Regions from separate parts of the Homo sapiens genome. Here region 1 is reported to be linked to region 2. Evidence: microRNA targets listed by miRTarBase, many of them from high-throughput screens and not tested one by one. Region 2 holds a microRNA gene; the other region holds the end of a gene's coding sequence.
The links. The annotated mature microRNA hsa-miR-1197 reads UAGGACACAUGGUCUACUUCU and lies in region 2 at 2,774-2,794, opposite strand. An mRNA with a match to its seed (bases 2 to 7 or 8) in the 3' UTR can be bound and repressed. Matches are read on the target gene's strand: a 7mer-m8 pairs with bases 2 to 8, a 7mer-A1 pairs with bases 2 to 7 and ends in A, and an 8mer does both.

Region 1 (3,000 bases), not on the chromosome of region 2:
TTGGATGGAACTAGTTCTTGCCTTTTGGCCCAAGGTCATGCTCTGTTGGGTTTCATTGGCCTTGGGAAATGGTAGCTTAGTCTCAAAGGTGACAAAATATGGGCGAGACATTTTGGGAGCCAGGTTCTATCCTTTCTGTCATGTGCAATAAAGTGGGTCAAATCTGCCATCAGAGGCAGAGACCCCAGGCTCTGGGCTAATCCTGCAAATTCAAAAACGAAAATGTGGAGACGGCACAGCCTTCCGGCCTGTGCAGCAAAGTGCTCGTGTGCCCAGATCCCTCAGTCTGTGTCTTCCAAAGCCTCCCAGGGTAGAAAGCATTCGTGTGTGAGGACTTCTCCCAGCCACAGGGAATGTGGGGGGTGGTCCCTTCCTGGCAAGGCCAGGAGTCCACATTAGTGCTTCCTTTCTCAAGAAGCCAGTCCCCACCACAGGCCTGCCCCGGCTTGCCTATCATGTGTCATGGTCAAGTACCAGCACGCCAAAGCCCATTTTTCTGTTCACCGCAGACCCTCCTCTTCTGATCGGCATCTTATTCCTGTGGCCTTCGTGTCTGAGAAATGGTTTGAAATCTCCTGCTGACTGGCCGAAGTCTTTTTTACCTCCTGGGGGCAGGGCAGACGCCGTGTGTCTGTTTCACGGTAGGTACCTCTCTTTGGACATTCCTGTTTTCGTTCCCTTTCCTCCCCTCCCCACTGCCCTCCCCTGCACTCTTTGGGATCACTGGGAGCTCTTTTAGACATGGCGGGTGGATTTCCAATGGCATCACTTCTCTGAACATGAGCCGGCGGGGGGGGCTGGGCTTTTGACCTTGATGTTGGATTTGTTAGAAGTGCCCTCCCCGTCCCAGGGGAGGATAGTAACAGACATTCATGCACCCTGATTCCACGTCCTCACTATTCTTATCAGTGCCACTCCTTCCCTCAGGAAGGCCACCACATGCGTGGCCTACGTGGCAGGGAAAGTCATTCCCTAAAACAAGCGACAATTACAGCTCTCATTTCCCACAACAGGAGGAGATTAGGACAGCGGCTAGGGAGGCAGGAATCGCACCTCCATCACATGTCTTTACATCGGGGGAGGGCGCAAGGCAGAATTAAAATACAATTTTGAAATATAAAAATAAGAGATAAGAAAGAAAATGATAAAGAAAGAAAGGGAAGAGTTGAGACATCTACTAATTTGAAGCCAGGAACCGGCACCAAAACAGGATGAATTTTCCACGCTCTGCTGGATGGGAACATTTGGTTTGCTTTTAGTGATATTAACTTTAATGCTAACGTTAAATTGCCTCCTTCTGTGCTGAGTCTTCAGAGCACTCGGGCTGCTGAGGGGAGAGAGCATTGCGCCCTCATGGCTGCACATCCCATGCATTCTATAAGCACAGCCCATGGGTGTGACCTGAGGTTTTCGTGTTGTTTTCATGGTTCTTTTCGACGCTGGGCTTTCTACGCATCCTCATCTTGCTTCCTTCCAAAGGTGACCTAAGATCCCTTCCATGAGTAGGGAGCCGTATTTCTAGGATAGAATACCAATATTTGAAAATATTTTTTTCTTACTTTTTGCCCACCATCTGATATGAGGGACAGAATGGACAAAGTCCTCAGGGGCCCGCGGACAGGGAAGGTCTGGAGGACTCAGCTGGCTGCACCTTGCTGGGGGCGGGGAACCAGCTGCAGTCAGAGAGGGGAGTGAATCGGTCAGTTCCTCATCCTGGCACTAATGAACTGCATGTTTGCTCCAAATCAAATCTCCAGCCCTCACTCCCTACCCCGAAGCCAACATGTTCTGCCAACTGGCAAAGAAACGTAATTAGATTAGAATATGGGAACCGAGCTGCCCTGCAAGGGCCTTTGCTGCAGCAGGTAAGAGGCGGGTTGCCCCCACCATTCAGTGGGGGGATGTGCAGCCTAGAGCATCCATCAGAAGCCAGTGCCTTTGTCTGCCTCACCGCAGCTCCCCTCATGAAGGGAGCCCCTACTGGAGTGCCAACCAAGCTAGCCGCAGGGAGCTGGCTTGCTAGCAGTGTAGTCCGCGACCCGCCTGGTAAAGCCTCTGTAGGGACTGGGTCCTGATGGTTGCCAGCATCTCTGTTATGATTTTTAAAATTTGTTAATGCACAATTCATTGACCTGGGAGATGCAAGGCCTTAGAGTCGAAGACCCTCACTCCCTTCCGCCAAGAGCCACAGACCCACAGAACTGGAGAGGTCAACTCGGGGGGACAGCCCCGTAATACGGATGTTTGCACGGCAGCTCGTGGAACACTTTTTACTTGCCCAGTCCTCCCAGCAATCTCATTTACAAGTGGGGAAACCGAGGCAGTGGGAGGTTAAATGACTTGGCCGAGGTCAGCTCCCTAGGGGAGAGGGGACAGCTTTCTAATGTTTGCACGGCAGCTCATGGAACACTTTTTACCTGCCCAGTCCTCCCAGCAATTCCTTTTACAAGTGGGGAAACTGAGGCAGTGGGAGGTTAAATGACTTGGCCGAGGTCAGCCAGGTTGTTAGTGGTGGGGCTGGATCACCCGATGGCTGCCTGGCTCCGGGACATCCCCTGCCTACTCCACAGGCCTGAGCCCAGGGATCCTTCTTTTCCATTAGAACAGGAGCCCGCAGCACTGACTTTAAAAAAAATAAAAAGATAAAATAGGGCAAAAAAAAGTGTTTTATTTACTCATCTGCCCCAGAAAACCTTCGTGTCTCATCAGCCTGGTCCTCCCCTTCCAGCAGCATGGGGCACTGAAGACCCCCCAGAAATACTGTTGGTGGGCTAGCCCTGTGCTGCAGCCCCAGGCAAAGGCAAGAGACATGGGCGCCCCCAGATGGGCCCCAGGTGGACCCCACTTCCCAACTGTGCCTGAGGAGCTGTTTCAGGACCACCGGCATTTACACAAGGAAACATCTCTGTGTCTAAAGAGCTGACCCCCTCCCTGTGGCTCTCAGGTAGGTCGTCCGCAGAGTTCAGAAGAGCCCGTGAGGCTTACTGAAGGCAGCTGCGC
Region 2 (3,798 bases):
TATGTTCTCTCTGGTTATAAAAAGCAGGGTTGACATGGAAATACCTGGCCCTTCTCCAGAACCTGAGGCCCTCCTCCCTCACAGTCCCATCCCCAAATGCCACAGATGAGCCGAGGACCCACAGTCACAGCTAAGTGCCATCAAAACAAATGCAGCACCAGCAAAACCTACTTCTGTGCCTTGGCTTTAGAGCTGGCAGGGAGCCTTTTCCTTCCCCAGAGGCTGGCATCACCTCCAGGAAGTCCTCCTGGAAAGGATCGGGCACCAAGCATTACTGCCAGACAGGACGCTTAGAACAGGGGAAGCACCCATCTCGGCCCACTCACCCTGGCCTGGGCCTGACAACTGTCTTATCCGGAAGCCTTCCAAACTGGTGTTTGATACTGAAGAGTGGTCCACAGAAATGATTTATATAAAAGAAACAGATATGCCAAAGGAAACCTCTCCTTGAGCACCCCAAAGAAGGACCATCTGCAGAAACACAACCCTGAGGGTAGGTCAGATGTGCTGGTCAGTGGAGCAGGTGTGTTCCTGGGGAGGTACATGCCCCGTGGTGGGCCATCCACTCCCTTCCCCTGGATCAGGGCTGGTGACAATGCCCTCCCTTCAAGCTGGCATGACATCAAGGATTCCTCCAGATTTAAAGGAAGTCAACTCCACAATTCCTGTGAGAAATAAACAGGTCTCAACCTGGGCCAATTCCAGGGCCCCCAAGGTCTCCTCTTGACCTCAGAATCAGCTTTTCTTCCCTAAGGTGTCATTATATCCAGGACATCCTTTCAGAATAAACTGCAGGCTAGGGGCAGGCGTGCAGGACACCTGCACTATCTGTCCAGGGCATGCTGGCATTCCCCTGCTGTGGGCTGGGCTCATTCAAGCCCATCACTGAGTGTGGCAAGGACGAGGCATCCCCCTACAGCAGGGTCAGATGCCGAAAGAGCCTGAATTACACACACGATCCGTTGGGAGCACAACGAAGGCAACCACAGACAACTCACCTGCATGTTCCGTGACACTGTCGTGGTGACACTGTCTTCCCCCAGGCTGCCATCACATTGAAAAGTCCTCCTAAGAAGGGATAAGACATTGAGGGTTAGCGCAATCGGTGGCAAAATTCAGAAACATGGGGCACGCTTAGTGATCAGCCATTTGCTCGTGTCTCCTTATTTATGTCCACAGCACCCCTTCCCTGAAGCTGAGGTCTGGACCAGAAGGCCTCCAAGATGGGATTTGATACTGGAAAAGAGGTTAACCAGGTGTGTTTCGTCCTCAATAAAGAAACAGAAACCCAGAAAACCTCTCTTCAGGTACCACCAAGTAACACTGACAAGAACACCACTGATTCCTTCCCCAAACTTGACATTCAGTCCTGGAAGTCCTGTTAAATACGGATTGGACACTGGGGTTAGTAGAACAGATGACATCAGTCAAAATAATACAGCACAGGCTTCGTGGTTAACCATAGATTTCTGTCCAGTGGACTGGAGCTGAGAGTAACGCCCTTCCCTGAAGCTGAGGTCTGGACCAGAAGGCCTCCAAGATGGGATTTGATACTGGAAAAGAGGTTAACCAGGTGTGTTTCGTCCTCATTAAAGAAACAGAAACCCAGAAAACCTCTCTTCAGGTACCACTGATTAACACTGACAAGAACACCACTGATTCTTCCCCAGACTTGACATTCAGTGCTGGAAGTCCTGTTAAATATGGAATTGCACACTGAGCGTTAGTTAGTTGATTTGCCGGAAGAAGCCAAGAGTTGGATGCATGCTGCTTGCCAACCATCTATCCAAGTACCCCAGTGGAGCAGACCCCACATCACGTCTGGAAGTTGACATCACAGCCAGAGGTGGTGATGCCATAAAAAGGCTGGTCACAGCAGCTATCGCGTTTAGGGTTAACCTCCAGGGCCATCTTTTCTCAGTTACTCAAGAGAGGCACAGATGCCCCAAAGCAAGGCTGACTCCACCAAAGGTCCTGCTAAGGACCCAGTGGAGACTGAGGTGTGACGGGCCAGGCGACCTTGGTTGTAAATTAAAGTGCATACACTCAGGTCAGCTGATCACTGGAGGACTTTGGGATGGTATAGACAGCATGCCCCTTCCCTTGAACTTGGATGCCTCCACATCTAGGAAGCCCTCCAAGGAAAGAGATCGGAGTGAAAATCAGTCCAACTCAGCCACATTTGGCATACATGTCGCAAACGCCTCGCAGATGCTCTCTTCAGAGTCTAACAGAGTGCAGCTGGCCCCAGTTTACTGTCTCTTTCCCAAAAAGTTGACACCTCTTCCAGGAAGTTCTCCAAGGGGGCATTAGATACTGAGGGTTAGTGGACCAGGTCACAAACGGCACAAATAAAGCGTGTGCTCTCTGGTCAACCATCTCATGTATCCAGGCACGTGCTGACACCACGCTCCTTGTCCGCAAGTTAACCCTGCTGCCAAGCCAGAGCAGTGTGCTGAGAAGAAGGCTGCCACACGTGAGTTATCGTCACACACAAGACAAACACATCACAAACCCCGCTGGGTCACACTGAGCGCAGACCTAGTGGCCCCCACCCCCGCAGTTGATGTTAGCTCCAGGAAAGCTTGCAAGGCGGGATTAGATACTGCAAAGAGGTCGACCGTGTAATGTGCGCCATAAATAAAGCGAACGCGCCACGGACCACCTCTCTCCAAGTACCAAGCAGCAGCCGTACTGACACCAGGACAGTGGCTCTTCCGCAAAGCTGATATCACCTCCTGGAAGTCTTCCAAGGCGAGATGTGATATTGAGAAGAAGTAGACCATGTGTCCTACGTCACAAATAAAGCGTACACACCATGGTCAACCGCATCTTCAAATACCAGGAAGTGACGCTGACCCCTGGCTCTCTTCCTTTCACCTGCTATCACCTCCAGAAAGCCTCACAATGCGCATCATGAACTACCAGCCACCGGCAATGTGGCAATGACCACAAACCCACATCCAATGCCACTACCACCTCCAGGATGCCCTGTAAGGGTGGGACCGGTACTGAGTTCTTGGCTGGTGGACCAAATGGCCAATGTAATAAATAAAGGACTGGGTCTGCAGCCAACCACCCGGTGACCTGCACTGCACCCTGGCTACCACTCAGGCCTGGCTCTCAAGTCGGCATGGCCTCCGGGAAGCCCCAGGGCTGGCTGATACTGAGAATGAGTGGACCATGCTACATCTGTCATTCAACAATGCATATGCTTTATGCTCTACCATCTCTCCAAGTACTGTGGAATGGCGCTGAAGCCAGATCAGTGTGTCTCCCACGAAGGTGACTTTGCCTCTCTCTGGGAAGCCCTCTATGACTGAATTTGATATTGAGAAGATGTGGACCATATTACATACGACACAGAGATAGCGCATGTTCTATGGTCAACCATCTTTTCAGGTACCTTGGAGAGGGCTGAGGTCAGAGCCGGTGTCTCTTTCCTCTCACTAGCATCACCTCCAGGAAGCCCTCTGAGGCCTGATGTAGTATTGAGAAGAGGCCACCATGCAATGTCTGCCGCAGATGCAGTGGACGCAGCACAAAGGAGCCCCTCAAGAATGGAGATGATGCTGGAACTAGTGCTATGACTGACACTCGTTCCTGCCTACAGAAAGCCCCCCGAGGTGCACGCTGTTATAGGAAGGTGGACGAAGTAACATGCGTTGTAAGTAAAACATATGAAGCATGGCCAACTTCTACTAAGTACCCCGAGGCAGTACTTGTACCAGAACTGGTGCTTTGTCTCCTAAGCTTAACATAACCTCCCTGGAGACTTTCCAGGCTGAATGGGATACT

Region 1: the mRNA of AJAP1 is a reported target of hsa-miR-1197. The part of its 3' UTR that is shown has no 7-base or 8-base seed match.

Annotation. Positions count from the first base shown.
Region 1 is chr1:4,773,918-4,776,917 of GRCh38, forward strand. It overlaps AJAP1 (adherens junctions associated protein 1), which reads left to right. Exons shown (of 6, transcript NM_018836.4): 5 at 510-641. The coding sequence ends at 582. Among named protein-coding and RNA genes, the nearest start is that of AJAP1, 120 kb to the left of the region's middle.
Region 2 is chr14:101,024,616-101,028,413 of GRCh38, reverse strand. It overlaps MIR1197 (microRNA 1197), which reads right to left and starts at 2,850; the gene lies at 2,763-2,850. It overlaps LOC124903407 (mucin-2-like), which reads right to left. Exons shown (of 5, transcript XM_047432049.1): 5 at 1-3,798. It overlaps MIR380 (microRNA 380), which reads right to left and starts at 3,397; the gene lies at 3,337-3,397. MIR323A (microRNA 323a) reads right to left here and starts at 2,682; the gene lies at 2,597-2,682. It also overlaps MIR758, MIR329-1 and MIR329-2.